Regions from separate parts of the Homo sapiens genome. Here region 2 is linked to region 1. Evidence: fine-mapped expression QTL. A gene starts in region 1. The other region holds a variant in brackets. All regions are shown on one strand. Distances are between the middles of the regions.

Region 1 (9,165 bases):
GAATGGCTAACTAGAATCAACAGTGTAGAGAAGACCTTAGATGACCTGATGGAGCTGAAAACCATGGCACCAGAACTACGTGACGCATGCACAAGCTTCAGTAGCCGATTCGATCTAGTGGAAGAAAGGGTATCAGTGATTGAAGATCAAATTAATTAGCCGAGTGTGGTGATGGGCGGCTATAATCCCAGCTACTCAGGAGGCTGAGGCAGGAAAATTGCTTGAGCCCAGTAGTTTGAGGCTGCAGTGAGCTGTGATCGAGCTACTGCACTCCAGCCTGGGTGACAGAGCCAGACCTTGTCTCAAAAAAAAAGTCCTGGCTGGGTGTGGTGGCTCATGCCTGTAATCCCAGCACTTTGGGAGGCTGAGGCAGGCAGATCACCTGAGGTCAGGAGTTTCAGGCCAGACTGGCCAATATGGTGAAACCCCGTCTCCACTAGAAATACAAAAATTAGCTGGGCACGGTGGTGGGAGCCTGTAGTCCCAGCTACTCGGGAGGCTGAGGCAGGAGAATTGCTTGAACCTGGGAGACGGAGGTTGCAGTGAGCTGAGATCACACCACTGCAATCCAGCCTGGGTGACCAGAGTGAGACTCCATCTCAAAAAAAAAAAAAAAAAAAAAAAAGGCCTAAAAGCCCCCAAATGATTGTCCACGTTCAGCGAGCACAGCTGTGAGCCATGGATCAGTATCCTTCAGAATTTCAGAGTTTTAAGAAACGCAGTTTCCATTCCTACTGGTTGCTATGGGATTATTATGAAGACGAGCAGGCCAGTGCTTGTCTGTTTCAAACGAGGGGCACTGAGCAACCCTCCCCGGACTCTGGTGGCTCGACGAGGCTGCTGTGGCAACAGGAGCTGGCCTGGGTGGCCCTGACTCTCCACTTCCTCTGTGGTCAGGGCTGACCCTCCTTAACCCTATTTTCCAAATAAGGAGTGGAGACACAGAGTGCTGCTCGCCCTGGGAGGCAGGAGCTGTGTGTGGGCCAGAGTGGAACTTGTCACTGGGTCTCACCTGTCTCCAAGGCCCCAGAAGCCCTGGAGAGCAGAGTGGGCCACGCAGGTTTCCTCACTCACGCAGCAGGTGCCCAGGGTACTACGAAGCCAGGCCGCGCTGGACCGTGGGTCAGTGAAAGGCCAGGGCAGGGCAGCCCTGGGGAGTGCAGGTAGACCCGTCCTTGCCCGGCTCAGCTCCCCCTGGACAGGTGGGGGCTCTTGCCAGCTGCTCTCACCCCTGAGTCCCAGCTTCCCCTTCTGGTCCCGACTCTGGGGGCAATGGTTCTCTCCCGGGTCAGTGTGACCAGTTGGAGAGTGGCTTCTGGCCATGAGGGGTGCAATAAGCTAGTTTTGGGGACAACCCTTTTCTGAAACTGCACTTGCTTAGACGAAAGGGGGGCCCAGGCCCCCCACTGCCCAGCCACAGAGGACTGGATAGGGGGAGACTGGGCTGGAGGCAGCCGGTCCCTGGAGGGCCATGCTCCAAAATCTGAACTTGAGACATGCACACTCGTCCTCAAGTGGTGCTGGGCCCAGAGCTGTGGGTCATCAAGCCATCCCATGTCATGCCAGAGGCCGAATGACCTGTTGCAGGTTCAGACGCCAGCGCCCTGGCAGAAACAACCGGTCTGCAGTGCAGGAAGAGGTGTGGACAGGGCTGCGGAGGAAGCCCCGGACTCCAAGGAGAGAAGACAGCCTGTGAGGACCCCCTTGCACCCTGGGCCACGTCAGGGCACCTCGGGGCTCCACTGTGAGCTTCTGTGGCTCTCACCTGCCAGCATCCCTGCCCTGTCCTGGCAGCTGCACCATGGGCCCTTCAGGGAACCCCCTCTCTGCTGGGTCCAGGCAGATGAGATGATCAGGGGCAGTCTCCCTTCTGGGGTAGGCCCGAGGCTCCGAGGCCTGGGCTGGACAGGTCAGCATGTGCCCCTCCCCCAGTGTGCTTGGCGCAGGGCTGAGACCCACATCACGCTAACATGACACGGGCAGAGCCAACCTCCCACTGGGTCTGCTGACTGCAGGGGTGACTTGGAGTCACCTAGGACCATCACAGGCTGAGTGAGGATGTGGCCAGTTCAGAGGCAGCAGAGCCACGAAAGGGGAAACTCGCCAGGCGGCCCTGGTCTGTCGACTCAGGAGGGCCAGGGAATCCCCACTGTTGCTTGTCACTTTGACTTCATCTTCTGCTGTCTGCATCAGAAAGTCCTTACAAGTACACCTACCGGCCAGGACACAGCTCCTCTGGGGTTCTTTAGGCGTCAGCTGCCAAACGACCCCACAAGCCACACAGTGGAGGCCACAGAACAGGTGCCCAGGTGGGCGGGGCTTCCTGTCACCCTCCCCCACATGTGCCCCGGTGGCCACACCCCACCCCTCCACCCTGCACGGCCTGAACCCTTGCTGTCCTATGGAAACGTAGGGTGAGTCCACATGCAATTCCCTATTTACCGGGAGCCACATTAGAAAAGCAGAAGTAGGTGAAATACAGACTAACTTTATATTTTATTTAACCCAACATAACCAAAATATTATTTCGACAAGTCTTCAACATAAAAAATTATTCATGAGCTGCCCCGCCTCACCCCTCTGTCCTCTGAGAAAGTCAGGAAAAGCAGAAACTTAACAGGGAGGCTTCACCTGCAGAGCCCAGCTCATCCAGCGAAGCTATGCTGGCCCAGAAGGAGTTACACAATGAAAAGAAGAAATTCTGAAACAAAGTATCTACACTGGCCCAGAGGAACTTCAAAAGTGAAAGGATGAAATTCTGAAGCAAAGTATCTTTAGGAGGGAGATGCCACTCAGTGCAGAGAAAGGCCCGGCTACTGCTGTCAGGACACGGACCCCTGGGCGCTGGAGAGCGTGCTCTGGAAAGCAGTCACTGCACACAAATAAGACATATGAGATGGAAAAGCAGCTGCCCAGGACTGTCGGCTGTCACCCCTGGGTGGGGAAATTATGGGTGGTGTCTGTTATCTTTTCAAGTATATCTTTATGTTAAAAAACCATTAATTTAATAAAATTGTTAAGTGAGATATTTTACATTATTTTTCTTTCACCAAGTCTTCTAAATCTGTGTATTTTACACTACCAGCACCTTCCAATTCCGACAGCCACGACTGCCCAGCCCTTGGGTGTGGCCCGTGGCCCCCACTGGTCAGCACAGGTGGGTCTGAAGGCACCTGTCAGGGTCTCTGCTGGTCGGAGCCAGCACACAGGGGCTGAGCGACACCGACGGCCCAAAACTGTCTGGTACTCGGTGTCGTCCCAGTCCTCACACACAACGTGAGCACGGCGGGACAGGTGTAACCCCCCAGGTGTGGCAGCTGAGGTTCAAGAATGGAAGTGACCCCCAAGCTTGGAGACAGTAGGGTTTCAACCCAGGTGTGTCTGGGGTCCTGCACGGTGACCCATGCCCCAGGCAGGCTCATTCCTGAGTCTCCAGGTGGCTCCCACAAGGAGTTAGGGAAGGAGGCCTCCAGGCTGGCTGTGACCCCTGACCCCGCACTTGCCCACCAGGAGACATTCCAGCCTTTCAGTTCTTCAGACCTTAGGGACACCTGACCTTCGCTCAGCATTCTCCAGAGGACAGAGACAGCCGTCAGGTAAGACTGGAGCCCAGCGGGGGGACCCGGCGGCCCGAGGTGGCGGGAGTGATTCCTAGGGCGACGCAGCTCTCAGGCAGGGCGGCAGGAGCAGCCTCTTCCTCCCTTTGGGGAGGCCACGCTGCGCGCCCACCTTTCCCAAGAGTAGAGGGCGGGAAAGGTCAGACGGGGGAGGCAGGGCCCGGTAGCACGCCGGCCACCCACCTGCCAGGGAGGACGCTGTCCCGGTCATGCAGCACAGTGGCAGCGCGTGTGGTGATCGGTGACCGCCGAGACCCCACGCCTGGACCCCGCGGCCACTCCCCGAGGGGCCTCCCCCTCCCCGCACGGGGATACCCCCCGTCCCCTCCCCCTCCTCCTCCCCGCGCGGGGCCTCCCCCCTTCCCCAAGGGGCCTCCCCTCACCTCTCCCCCCACCCCGCCCGCCCTTCCCCCACCTCGCTCCTCCCTCCATCCGCCCCTCCCCTCCCCGCCCCACCCCGGCCCTGCCCCGTCCCACCGCCCGCACTCACGTCGTCCATGAGCAGGAGCAGGATGTTGGGGGGCTGCGGGGCGCCCGAGGCCCCCATCCCCGCGGCGCTGAGCACCAGCAACAGCTGCCACCACCTCGTCGCCGCGACAACCGCCGCCATGGCAACCACGGGAGCCGCGGAGCCCCGGCCAGCGAGCCGACCTAGCGAGCGTCCGCCGGCCCTTCCGGCTGGGCTGCGGGGCGGGGCCTGGACGGCCACGTGACTCGCGGGGCGGGGCCAGAGTCCGCGGAGGGACGGGAGGCGGGGCCTGGACTGCCTCGTGACCAGTGGGGCGGGGCCTGAGCCAGCTGTGTGCGGATGGGGCGGGGCTTTGGAGGCCGCGTGACCAGCGGCGGGTCACGTGACGCGGTGCCTGGCGCCGAGCCTCCCAAGATGGCGGTGTGCATCGCGGTGATTGCCAAGGAGGTGCGTACGCGCGGCGTGGGGCGTCCGGGCTCGCACCATCCTCGGCTCTCCGCTTTCTTTCTACTTCTTCCCTGGGCTTAGAAGGCACCTTAGGAAATGGGACCTGGAGGAGGCCTTCGCCGAGCTCCAGCGGTCAGGGGCTTCGCGGTGGACGAGCCGCCAGGCAGACCCTGACTGAGACCCCAGTTCCGCGCTCGCCCGTCCCGCTGCTGAACGCACCCCTCGGCGCAGCAGGTCTCCTCCCCGCCAGGACCCACCAGAAACCTAGGTGGTCCCGGGCACTACCTCCGTCCTCCGTCCTCAGCAGGTTCTGCCCGTTCTCCCGTCCAGCGCTGGTTCCCCGCGGACGGCGGCCCCGGCCCTCCTGCCAGTCTCCCCGGAGCCGAGTTAAAAACAAATCGGATCCTGTCACGCCTCTGCCTGAGACCTCTGCAGTGGCTTCTCGTTGCCTTAGGATGCTGTCTGAATAACCTGCTCTGGGATCCTTTCCCCCCATAACCCTTGGCACTCTCCGCTCCAACCAAACAATTCTGCAGCTCCCTGGACATGCTCTGCCCTCTCACCTGTGGGCCTTTGCACGCGGAACACCTCTCCCCAGCTCCCATCCTCTTTACTGGCCCACATACATTTCAACTGGAAAGCATTTTCTGAAGGCTAAGACTGAGCTGGGTGGCTGCCCACACGCTCCTGCTGCACGGAGCCTTCATTTCCTAGCCAGGGTCTCCCGAGACCAGACTCGAGACCGCTCCCTGCTGGGCGGTGGCTGCTGCTAAGCTGCTCATGGGCTTCCCTCTTGGCCAAGATGATCATTTGCTTGTTTGTGGGTTTATTGACTAGGTATCACTCCCCACGAGGGTAGCGAGGACTCTTGTTCACTGTATTTGTGCAGGACCCAGTGCTGAACACACACAGGGTAAATGGTGGTGTGTGAAAGACCGAGAAAGAAGCTGTTAATTCTGGGCTTCCAATGGTCAGAAATGCAGAGATGAAGGGAATTTGAGCTGAGTCTTGAAGGGTTTAGTAAAAGGGTCACTGTCAAGGTGAAGAAAAGCCAGTATTGAGGGTGCTGTATTTGGGTGAGCCATGCAGAGTTAGAGGTGGGCTGAGGCAGAGTGGCCTCCAGGAGAAGGTGAGAGGCGTGCCCAGGTGCCAGGCTTGATCGGCAGGCTGTGCTCAGGCCCATTTTTCTGATTCATTTTTTCTTTTCCGCCCACCCTACTGCTGCTGCTTTGCAAACAACACATAAATCTCCTTAGGTTAGCTGGGATCCCCTGAAGGCAGTGCCCACTGCGGCATAGAGAATGAAGCGGTGGGCCTTAGAGCATGGGAATGCGTTCCCCGGGTGGCTGCAGGTCACGGCTCTGCAGCATAGTTCAGAGCTGGTGTGCGCTGGGTGGAGTCTTGTCCTTTCAGTCGCCGTCATCCTTTCTTGCAGAATTACCCCCTCTACATTCGCAGCACCCCTACGGAGAACGAGCTGAAGTTCCACTACATGGTGCACACATCTCTGGACGTGGTGGATGAGAAGATCTCCGCAATGGGGAAGGCCCTGGTCGACCAGAGGGAGCTGTACCTGGGCCTGCTCTACCCCACGGAGGACTACAAGGTGTATCTTTCAGGGCAGGGTGTGTGTCAGGGAGGACCTACAGTTGCAAGATGTACTTTAGGATCAGATAACTTGAAACCTTTTAGAAGAAAAAGAGGTGAGAGTTTTTAGCCAGCCAGGGAATTAGGGTAGCTTGAGGTGAATGAAGGCCTGTAACTCTTCTCTTTCATTGGAAGAGCCATTTGGGAAAAGCAAGGCTAGAATTCCCCGTAGAATGTTTTGGTTTGCACGTGTCCGTTGTCTGGTTTGCAGAGGAAGTGGGACACTTCTGCTTTGTACCTGCAAGGATTTCTTTCTGTGCTTTTCAGGGGGAGCCACCACCTTTGAGCAGGGGATAATAGTTTCATTTATTTCATTAGGCCTTGCCTCTTATGTCACTAGACACTCGTCTAGTCCCTTGGGACAAATCACTTGAGGCCATGGAATTCAAAGACCTTCCCAAAAGTCATCATGTAGCCTGTCCATGGTGACATTTGCTAGTAGCCACTATTTTACAAAATAATGTGGCCTCTAGAGAGGGGATCCGCCTTGTTCACGAAGCCTCTGGTTTTGCAGTTAACTTTCCGGGCCAGGCATTGATTCATGAAGAGGGTGAGGTGTTCCAGACAGACAGACTCGGAGTCTAGGTGGTTCGGCTCCTGGAGTGTGAACTGGGTAAGGCTTGGCTGCCTGCTCTTCGCTTCTCCTGCAAACACCAGACGTCGCCCTAGCAAAGTATTTAGGCTTGTACCCAGCACGGCCACTGCAGGACCAGCCCAGCATGGGCATTTCCTGTGATTCAAGGTTGCCACATTTCTCCAAAGTGAGGGCCCACAGAGGGCCCTCCACCGGCAGTCCCTGTGTTACGAGTGCCTTCCCTAACCAGCTGTGCAGATACGGCTACGTCACCAACTCCAAGGTGAAGTTTGTCATGGTGGTAGATTCCTCCAACACAGCCCTTCGAGACAACGAAATTCGCAGCGTAAGTCAGGGAGTTAGAGGGCCACGCCCGAGTGGGTGTTTTGTTTTTCCTTTTTGACTTTGTTTTGAAATGCTGAGAAACTAAAAATCTGGCAGTGGCTGTGTGTATGTGGCAAGGTCATGGTTTGCTGGGTCTTTTTCAGATGTTCCGGAAGCTACACAACTCCTACACAGACGTGATGTGCAACCCCTTCTACAACCCGGGGGACCGCATCCAGTCCAGGTGGGCCCTACTTTCTGTGTCTTGCCACCTTCTTTCTGTAGGACATGCCTTGCCATTTTGGTTGCCAAAATGCAACCATTTGGAAAATAAGGGAGGAAAGATCTTTTTAAGCTATGAGCACCATCCCCCTAGGGCAGAGGTTTTAAAGCCACAAAGCCCCGTTTCTCCACACCAACTCTTACACAGATCTCCAGCGCATAAAGTGGATAGAGTGTGTGTGGTGTGGGGAGTAGAGCTTGCCCATTTGGCTTCCCAGGTGTGCCCAGTGGGTACCTGGGGCACCTGCAGGACTCAGGGCCAAGCACATGGGCAGTGGCTTTCAGGGATCACACGTCCTTTTGTAGCTACCTGATCTTTTATGTTGAATTTGGAACAGTCAGGAACCTGGTTTGCAGGTGTCTTCCGAATAGTCCACAAAGTAAACAGATTTAACTTTTGAACATCATGAGGGAAATGTGGGGTCCATGCCCACATTCCAGACTTGCTTTCAGTGAGTCCCCAGTTCCAAGACATAATTCCCTGTGGTTGGCAGGGAAGAGGACGCTGCAGTGATCCAAGGCAGGCCCCTCCCTCCACCAGGACACTGTCTTGGGGCCATCCTGGTCCCAGATGGGAGCAGGCAGGCGAATGTCCACAGTCTTGCCTCCTGGGCTGCACAGGGCCATCCTTGCCACACCACCGCTCTGCCTGCCCATGCTGCTCCCTCCTCCACCCCTTCCTGGGGCCTTGGGAGGCTGCACAGGGAACTTGGAGGCAGCAGATGGGTTCTCAGTGCCCGGTGGGGTGGGACTCCTGTCCTGGCCTCTCAGCGGAGTTCACATTTCTGGACCCTGGAGAAGGTCCCGAGCATCCTGTGGATGGAGCCATGCTGCCCGGCCCGTCTCTGAGCAGAGGGGTGGAGGGCCTGGCTCTCCTCTGAGTGGGTCTGTTTCTCTTAGCAGGGCCTTTGATAACATGGTGACGTCGATGATGATACAGGTGTGCTGAGTGAGCTGTGCTGCCAGCCATCGCAGAGGAGCCCGCGCACGACTGTGGTGGGGCCGTCGGTCTGTTCTGGTTGCCTCTTCCTGAATGGGACGCCTGGGGCTTTCAGGGCAGGCAGCTGTGCATGTTCTCTCAACTAAAGGTCTTGTGAGAGGAGATTTGGCTTTTTCCTTCCGTGTCAGCCAAGGATTTAATTAAGAAGAATTCAACTAAGGACTTTTCTGGGGTGTGGGCAGAGGTTTGGGATCAGATGGCGCAGGTAGCCTGTCCTCAGTTGTCCCAAAGGGGCAGAGGCAGGGGTGCCTGGAGCCAAGAGTTCCTGAGCCTGCAGGACCTGTGACCATGTGGGTCACCCACTGGCTGAACAGGTGGGCTGGTCTGGAGGGGGTGGCCTCCTGAGCCCAGAACCAGCCTAGGATCTAGGGGCACAAGGGGAGCCGGCGTGGCTTCCCACAGGGGAGGGCCCTCCTCTTTCTGGACTTGGCCTCCATTCTTTGCATCTGGCTCAATGTCTGGATTCCGCCCGGCCTTAAAAGGAGCCCTTGTGAAACCTGGGAAGCCTCGTGGCCCCGCGGCGTTGGCTCAGCTGCAGCCCTGGTCCTAAACCTTGGAGCGCAGACTTGAGGCACCCCCTCCTGCCTGTTGGTGCTGAGGGGGTTGGGTGCTGTGTCACTTGATGACGTGGCTGACTACCACCCAGGGCAGCGGCCGAGCCCATAGTGGCGTCAGTGCCGCCGGCGTCCTTGGGGTCCAGCGGTCAAGGCTCAGCCCGCTGAGGGGACCCCCCCGGAGTTGGTTCCAGCACTGGTCCAGGACTGGAGAGTTTCTCAAGGACCTTGAGGACCCCAGAAGCCCTTGC
Region 2 (8,684 bases), 30 kb before region 1:
CAGGGCGCTGGCTAAACGCTGAAGGACTAGCGGGCCCATAAGCATCCTGTGGAGGAGGTGAAGCCACCCGCTCTGGGCCCGAGATGCGTAGCTGGCATGCCTCACGTACCCTGTTTTCATGTACCCCTCTTCTTTGCGAGGCAGGTGAGTGTATTTAAAACACCTTAGCCAGCCTCAGATCTGGACTGCCACTAATTTCATGGAGGAAAGCCCCTTTTAACAGCCTACTCTCTGCTGGGGAAGGGAGGGGAGGGAAAGGGACGGGAAGGGAGGCCCTGCCCTGGGAGAAGGGAGAGCCACAACGCTCAGAATCCCTACAGAAACCCTAAGACAGGGAGGAGCAGGACCAACATGTGAAAGGCAAGAGAAAACACAGAAAACAAAAACAGACCCAGGGAGCTGACACAGATTCACACACTCAAGAAGGGCAAGGATTTTACAGTAACCACAATTCTCTTTCTGCTGCCCCTGGGCCTCCTGATTCGGGAAAGGCGAGGTATGCCTCTAACATTCCCAGAGCGGGTGCTGCAGGCCAAGGGGCTCGTCCGAGGACTGTGCCCAGGACGGCCCTCGCAGGCGGCAATGCCGGGGACCGATGCCCAGGACGGCCCTCGCAGGCGGCAATGCCGGGGACCGATGCCCAGGACGGCCCTCGCAGGCGGCAATGCCGGGGACCGATGCCCAGGACGGCCCTCGCAGGCGGCAATGCCGGGGACCGATGCCCAGGACGGCCCTCGCAGGCGGCAATGCCGGGGACCGATGCCCAGGACGGCCCTCGCAGGCGGCAATGCCGGGGACCGATGCCCAGGACGGCCCTCGCAGGCGGCAATGCCCGGGGAACGATGCCCAGGACGGCCCTCGCAGGCGGCAATGCCCGGGGACCGATGCCCAGGACGGCCCTCGCAGGCGGCAATGCCGGGGACCGATGCCCAGGACGGCCCTCACAGGCGGCAATGCCGGGGACCGATGCCCAGGATGGCCCTTGCAGGTGACAGTGCTGGGTAAAACCCGAAAGAAGAGCGGGTGCGGGGCCTGCACAGGGTGGGGAGGAGCCAAAACACTCCTGGGCATCATTGCCCTCCAGACACTGCCCCACGAGCAGCTTCCCTCCTCAGCCTGGGTGCTCAGCCCTCAGCCCCAGTTCTCACTTCCAGTCTTTAGACTCTCCATTACACTAAATGATTTTCTTCCCAATTAAGGCAGATTAGCAGGGGGTTCATATCTCAAGACTTTGATGCTGGGAGTGGGTGGGGCTGAGAGAGACCTCTCAGGAGGGGCTGGGGGATGCTGGAGCGTAGGGGTCAGCAGGGGCCAGAAAAGACCGTGGGGAGGGAGCAGGAGGCTTGAGGCGAGGGCTCGTGGGAGAAAGCCTGGCGCTGACAATGCTGGGGTAGCCTGGGGCGGCAGGAGCCCCAGGCCCTGTGCGTGTGGCGTTTCACCCTCCCACACTGGGGGTTGCTGTGGTGATGCCAATGCTGCGGCCCCCATGTAGCACCTGGGCCAAGCAGGCCACGTCTCTGTCGCCTCCAGCCTGGGGTGTGGGGGAGGCTCAGATGCCCTGGCAGGATGGAGAGGCCCATGGGGGCCACCTGACCAGGGTCTAGGCCACGCCTGTAGCTATGCCGCGGGGCTACTGTCATCACGCGGGGCAGGAAGAGGTCCCTCCCTCCTCTCCAGCCTGTCAGCTGCCATGCCCTAGGCCACGCTGAACGACTGGGGGCCACACAGAGAAGGCTGTGGAGGGGGTGGAGTTCCTGCCTGTCTCACCCTCCTGTGCCTCCCCCAGGACGGTGCTCAGGGGCCACGTCTGGATAGAGATGGGGGCAGCTCCGCCTGCGCCCACGTCCCGAGCCCTGTACCTGTCTGAAGTTCTCCCAGGAGTTGGTCCAGGTCCAGAAGTGAGCCTTGTGCTGCCCGAGGGTGGCCGCCATCAGCGTGTCGCCACGGTAATAGAAGATAGGCCTGTGGGATGGGAGGGGAGGACCATGTAATGACAGGAAGGACACGCTGGGGCCACCTGGAGGCTCTGGGCTGCGTCTGTCATCAGTGGCTCATGCCTCCACGTGAGGTCTTGGTTGATACTTTACAAAGATGATTGAAAAGTAAAAAGGCCCGCAAGGTGGCTGGGGCTGGGGTGCCTGGGCGGCCGGGGCTGGAGCTCCTGGGTGGCCAGGGCTGGGGTGACTGGGTATCTGGGGCGCCTGGGTGTCTGGGGCTGGGGTGTCTGGGCGGCCGGGGCTGGGGTGACTGGGTGTTTGGGCGGCCGGGGCTGGGGTGACTGGGTGTCTAGGGTGCCTGGGTGTCTGGGGCGCCTGGGTGTCTGGGGCTGGGGTGTCTGGGTGGCCAGGGCTGGGGTGCCTGGGTGTTTGGGCAGCCGGGGCTGGGGTGCCTGGGTGGCCGGGGCGACTGGGTATCTGGGGTGCCTGGGTGTCTGGGGCTGGGGTGTCTGGGCAACCGGGGCTGGGGTGGCTGGGTGTCTGGGTGGCCGGGGCTGGGGTGACTGGGTGTCTGGGGTGCCTGGGTGTCTAGGGCTGGAGTGCCTGGGCGGCCAGGGCTGGGGTACCTGGGTGTCTGGGCGGCCGGGGCTGGGGTGCCTGGATGTCTGGGGCTGGGGTTTCTGGGCAGCCGGGGCTGGGGTGCCTGGGTGTCCGGGACTGGGATTCCTGGGCAGCTGGGGCTGGGGTGCCTGGGTGTCTGGGGTGCCTGGGCGGCCGGGGCTAGGGTGCCTGGGCGTCCCCTCATTGCTGGTCCTTGGCAAGGCTGGGCCAGACCCTGGGGAGGGTGGGCAGACAAGAGGATAAGCAGGCGGCACGGGGTCTCCTGACCATGTTGGGCCTGCGAGTCAGGAACGGGGAGTGGGGGACGCAGCTGGGCACCGTCTCTCCCCACAGTGACCAACCACTTGTGCCAGGTCTCGAGAGGGGACAAGTGAGCAAAACTCCCTCTACCCGGCCCCAGATAGCCGGAGGCGGCAGCTGCCTTGGGCCGTCCCCACCTTGCTTCCCGTTGAGCCTTTGGAATCCTCATCCCTTCAGGACCACCCAGGAAACGTGGTTTGAGTGGAATGGTGGCTGCTCTCAGGGGGTAGGAAATGGACTTTGGACACTAAGGATTTGGACAGAAGGTAAGAGCTGGGCCATGGACTTGGCAGAGCAGCGACTTGGATGGAAGGAAGAAGGAAGCTACAGGAAGCCATGAGGCACCAAAAACCAGGCTGGGCAGGGAACAGGGGTGGGGCAGACAGGGGCAGCGTGTGCCCGGGCTACAGACAGGGAACAGGGGTGGGGCGGGCAGGGGCGGCGTGTGCCCAGGTACAGGCAGGCAACAGGGGTGGGGCAGGCAGGGGTGGCATGTGCCCGGGCTGCAGGCAGGGAACAGGGGTGGGGCGGACAGGGGCGGCGTGTGTCTGGGTACAGGCAGGGAACAGGGGTGCGGCGGACAGGGGTGGCGTGTGTCTGGGTACAGGCAGGGAACAGGGGTGGGGCGGGCAGGGGCGGCATGTGCCCGGGTACAGGCAGGGATGAGGCCCCTCTCCTGGCCTTGCCCTCCCTCCTAAGGCTTTCTTGAAAGCCAGGGCCTCGCTGTGCTTGGACCCTCCCAGGATGGCCCCTGCCCCACAGGCAGGTCCCCAGGTCCTCTCGTCTCAGGCACCCCTGCCTCCTCCTGCCCTGGGCACGAGCACGCCTGTGTCCAGAAC[C/G]AGGAGGGCTGCTGGGCCTGGGGGTTGCACCTGATTAGCAGCTCTGGGCTTCACTACTTGGATCGGGGGAAGGGGCCGGGGCAGGTCTAGCACCAACCTGTCCATCAGCCGGCCCTGCAGGAGGGTGGGGAGGAGGTTGAGGCCATCAATGGCCCTGTCGCTGGGCGGCGTCAGGCCCGCAAGGGCCAGGCTGGTGGTGAAGAGGTCCATGATGCTGCCCAGCTGGTGGCTCACCTGAAACACATGGCAGCAACACGGTCAGGGCACTCTGCACCGACCCGATGGGGCTGGGGGCCAATCCCTGGGGGGGCGTGAGCCCCGCTGCCCAGCTGGGTCTACAGATATGCATACATGCTCACACGCCCACAGCAGGGACTGAGCGGGGTCACAAGGCCTGTGAGAGACAGAGGAGCCTCAAACCAGGCCCAAAGACCCCAGAGCCAGGCCACGCCCTCACTCCCTGGCACCCTTCTCTGCCTCTGTGGATCAGATGAAAGGAGAATCACAGCCCTCCCAGGGAGATGCCCCTCCAGGCCCACCTGTCCGGAGAGGATCAGCCTCGCTCTAACACTGAATGCCCTAAGGCCACTGTGAGCCCTGCCCCTTAAGTCAGAGGAGCAGGTGGAGAAAAACCAGATGTGGAGGGGCAGCTGAGGCTGGACAGGAGCAGCTCCGAGTGGCTGGGGTGGGGACGGCTCCTGACACACCCAGAGAGCTCCAGGACAGGCAGGAGGCTGTCTTTCCCGCCGTGCCTTGACCTCCGGAGGGCGTGGGCACTGCTGACCAGCCATGAGCAGAGCGTGCCATCTGGCTTCCCTCAGTGGCCCTGTCTGCTTCTTGTTTTTTGTTTTTGTTTTTTGAGATGGAGTTTTGTTCTTGTCACCCAGGCTGGAGTGCAGTGGTGCGATCTCAGCTCACCACAACCTCTGCCTTCCAGGTTCAAGTGATTCTCCTGACTCAGTCTCCCGAGAAGCTGGGATTACAGGTATGTGTCACTACGCCCGGCTAATTTTGTACTTTTAGTAGAGACGGGGTTTCTCCATGTTGGTCAGGCTGGTCTCGAACTCCCAACCTCAGGTGATCTGCCCGCCTCAGCCTCCCAAAGTGCTGGGATTACAGGCATGAGCCCGGCGGCCCTGTCTCTTTCTTAACTCGGGGGCTCCAGGCTTGGGTCACTCGACGGGGAGACTGGGGTGGGGCTGGAGAGACACCCCTGCCTGGCAAGCTCAGCCCCTGGGGCAGCTGGGCAGGGACCGCCATCCGCTGCCAGGCCCTGGAGCTCCCACCCAGTGTCGACAGCCCTCCCCACGGTCCAGGGGCACCCTCGCCGCCTGCAGCCAGCTCCTCGCTAGGGCAGACGGCGATCGCCAGCTTCTCCAACAGAGGAGCCCTGGCCTCACAGGGACACTCACTCCGCGCTGCAGCCGCTCACGGGATGTGGGGTCTGCAGCGCCCAGTGTGGGGCAGGGAATGCAAAGCTCAGCGTTTGCCAGGAAAGTTCAGGAAGCTTTGCAGAAGGTGAGAAGCTTCCCCAGGTCTGGTCAGCAGTGTCTGTGCGACTGCTTCCCGTCCTTCCCGTGTCCTTTAAAGGACAGAATAATAAAGGAAAGAAATCCAGATGCTTTTGTCATCTGAAAAAATAACTGCGGAGCAGTGCTTGTGGTGCCGGCAGGGCGGGCGGGCGGGAGTGGTGTCAGCACAGGCAGGGTCCTCGTGGAGCGTTTTCGAAGAACTCTCCAGGCAGCGATGCCTTCCAGAAACATCCAGAAATGCAGTGGGCAGCTGCGGCTGTGGGAGAAGTCACTGAAACCGTTATCAGCGCTTTCGAGACTTCACTCAGAATCCAGGGCTGCAGGGACTAAAGCCTCCCCTGCCCAGAGGGAACTGTCGGGACAGACGTCAGGCGCTTTCACTGAAACCCCGTCGTGGTGTCCTGGTGCACAGGCCTGATGCCATCGAATTCAATTTCACTTTGTGGCCCACGGGAAAAGGCAACTTGGTGGCTCTGGGAAGAGGGTTTCCCTTCCTCAGGTGGGGAGAGGGTTTCCCTTCTTCAGGGAGCGAGGCAGATGGCAAGGTTCCAAAACGCTGAAATTGGCATTTTTCTCAGCTGGAGCCTTTCCGTGGGCAGGTGGGTGGGGAGGTCTGTGGGGTACAGACGTCCCTGAACCCACTACGCATGGAGCCGGGCGGCGCTGGGGTGGCTCCCCTCACCTTTTCCAGGCTGCTGCTGAGCACAGCCACGGGTGGCTCCCAGCCTGGGGAGCAGAGCCCCAGCCCTGTCCCGGCCTGGTGGGCACCCACTGCAGTGGGGAACCTCACATCTCCCAGACCTACGCAGGTCCCGAGTCTCATGCCATCGTCTCCCAGACCTACGCGGGTCCCGGGTCTCACGCCATCGTCTCCCAGACCTACGCGGGTCCCGAGTCTCACGCCAACGTCTCCCAGAGCTACACGGGTCCCGAGTCTCATGCCAACGTCTCCCAGAGCTACACAGTTCCTGAGTCTCATGCCAACGTCTCCCAGAGCTACGCGGGTCCCGAGTCTCATGCCAACGTCTCCCAGAGCTACACAGTTCCTGAGTCTCATGCCAACGTCACAGTGTTCACTGAGTGACCACCGGCCACTCCCTGCAGGTGCCCCCACACAAGAAACCAAATGGCCCATCCCTACCCTCAGGGGGATGGCGCTCAGGGGAGTGGAGGGGGCGGCACAGCTGCATTCTGTCCTAGGGGCACCCCACACCACAAAGGAGGCCGTGCCCACCACCCATGCTTCTCCTGCACAACAAGGCGGTCACTCTCACAGCCACTCTGCCCTTCACACGGAGCCGCAGCTGCCTTTTCAGTGAACCGTGGGGTCTCTTCCACCTTCAGGGTCCTGGGAACTTGGGGTGGCCCAGGAGTCCCATGTCAGACAAAGGCTGCCCTGGGCAGGGTCTGAGGGAGGCCCAGACAGCTGTAGAGAACAGGCGCCCTTGGCAGTTGCCGCCCCCAGTCCCACTGGCTGCTGGGGACACAGGGGACTGCCCAGGCATGGTGGGCAGGAGTGCAGGATCCACAGCCAGGCGCCTGCTCCCACCTCTGCTCCCTAGTAATTGGGGGACCCTGACAGACGACTTCCTCTCTGGCCTCAGTTTCCTGATGTGTAGAATGAGTGGGGAAGAGGAGGATCTGGCAGAACAGCAGCCAATCCCTGGGCCTTCAGGCGCGCGACCAGGCCAGGCAATTGAGGCGGCAGACACAACGCAGGCCGCTCATCAGCGAGGCTCGAAACAGGGAGGCCAGCCTGGGTGAGCAGGGGGTGGGGTGGGACACAGCCACAGGGTCCTCAAAAGTGGAACAGGCGCCGGGCGCGGTGGCTCACGCCTGTAATCCCAACACTTTCGGAGGCCGAGGCGGGCAGATCACGAGGTCAGGAGATTGAGACCATACTGGCCAACATAGTGAAACTCCGTCTCTACTAAAAATACAAAAATTAGCCGGGCATGGTAGAGCATGCCTGTAGTCCCAGCTACTCGGGAGGCTGAGGCAGGAGAATCGCTTGAATCTGGGAGGTAGAAGTTGCAGTGAGCCGAGATTGCACTACTGCACTCCAGCCTGGGCAACAGAGTGAGACTTCATCTCAAAAAAAAAAAAAAAAAAAAAAAAAACGTGGAACAGGAAGGCCAGGGACAGATGCCTGCGTGCTGCTGGCTTTGACGGTGGAGGGGCCAGGAGCTCAGGAATGGGGCAGCTACTAGGATTGGGAAAAGGCAGGGAACAGAACATCTCCTGGAGCCTCCAGAAGGAGCTGGCCCCACGCACGTCTTCACTCAGCCCCATGAGCCCCATGTTGACTCTGGCTGTCGTCATGTGTGATGTTCCAGCTGCCACTGGGAGCCCCCCCCATCCTCGTGGGGCCACTTGAAGGGGATGGCTGCCTCTGGAGGCCATTGGGAGGGCAAAAGACTAAGAAACAGTGAAGAAACAGCGGTCGTTTACAAACACCAGACTCAGCCCCGCGTGTTGATGGGTATGTCTGGCTCAAGTGCCTGTTACAGAAGACCACACGGTGTGATTCTCAACCGAGGGGCAGCTTCCTGGGCCAGAGGAGATGCAGTGACAGCATGAAGGTGGTCACACTGAGATGGCAGGGCGCACCCTCGCCCAGCCAGGACCCAGGCCACCACCGAGGTCCGCACCCCATGCGGCAGACAGACACCAACGGTCTCGTGTCGGGCTGCTGCTGTTCTCTGAGTGTCCTTAGGACACTGGCCTGAGAAGATGTGCTTTGGGGGAAAAAACGACCGATTCTGTAGTAGACAGACAGGTTTTTAAACACTCAGCCTGCTCTAAGCCCCTTCTAGAAGCTCATGGTGCCCACCAGCATGCTAAAGGCACTGATAAGTCCTGCAGGGAAGAAACCTGTTTAGCTCCATTTAACTCAGGACTGCTGCGGTGACTGGACCACGGATGTCTCCTCACCACACAGTCATTACCAGCACCCACGTGACACACGGCAGTATACGTGGCTCCAGTCCCCACCGAGAGCCTTCCTGCCTGTCTGACCAAGCACAGCAAGCCCTACACACCGAGAGCCACCGAGAGGGACCTGGTTCCGAGGAGAGCGGTGAGGCCGAGCACGGGGTGCGTGGGGAGGAGAGCGGTGAGGCCGAGCACGGGGTGCGTGGGGAGGAGAGCGGTGAGGCCGAGCACGGGGTGCGTGGGGAGGAGAGCGGTGAGGCCGAGCACGGGGAGCGTGGGGAGGAGAGCGGTGAGGCCGAGCACGGGGTGCGTGGGGAGGAGAGCGGTGAGGCCGAGCACGGGGTGCGTGGGGAGGAGAGCGGTGAGGCCGAGCACGGGGTGCGTGGGGAGGAGAGCGGTGAGGCCGAGCACGGGGTGCGTGGGGAGGAGAGCGGTGAGGCCGAGCACGGGGTGCGTGGGGAGGAGAGCGGTGAGGCCGAGCACGGGGTGCGTGGGGAGGAGAGCGGTGAGGCCGAGCACGG

Evidence for each region. PIP is the estimated chance that this variant, and not a neighbour inherited with it, causes the effect.
Region 2: its variant is fine-mapped to the expression of GALNS in tibial artery (GTEx, PIP 0.96).

What each region holds. Positions count from the first base shown.
Region 1 is chr16:88,852,651-88,861,815 of GRCh38, forward strand. It overlaps GALNS (galactosamine (N-acetyl)-6-sulfatase), which reads right to left and starts at 4,297. Exons shown (of 14, transcript NM_000512.5): 1 at 4,108-4,297. The coding sequence starts at 4,227. It overlaps TRAPPC2L (trafficking protein particle complex subunit 2L), which reads left to right and starts at 4,477. Exons shown (of 5, transcript NM_001318525.2): 1 at 4,477-4,533; 2 at 5,969-6,141; 3 at 7,013-7,100; 4 at 7,243-7,322; 5 at 8,264-9,165. The coding sequence starts at 4,501. The coding sequence ends at 8,309. It overlaps LOC107983950 (a long non-coding RNA gene), which reads right to left and starts at 3,930. Exons shown (of 2, transcript XR_933884.3): 1 at 3,801-3,930; 2 at 2,478-3,651. RefSeq lists silencers at 2,291-2,360, 4,030-4,429.
Region 2 is chr16:88,822,908-88,831,591 of GRCh38, forward strand. It overlaps GALNS (galactosamine (N-acetyl)-6-sulfatase), which reads right to left. Exons shown (of 14, transcript NM_000512.5): 10 at 3,795-3,931; 11 at 1,860-1,962. Among named protein-coding and RNA genes, the nearest start is that of APRT, 15 kb to the left of the region's middle. The variant C/G (reference allele first, on the strand shown) is at 3,698.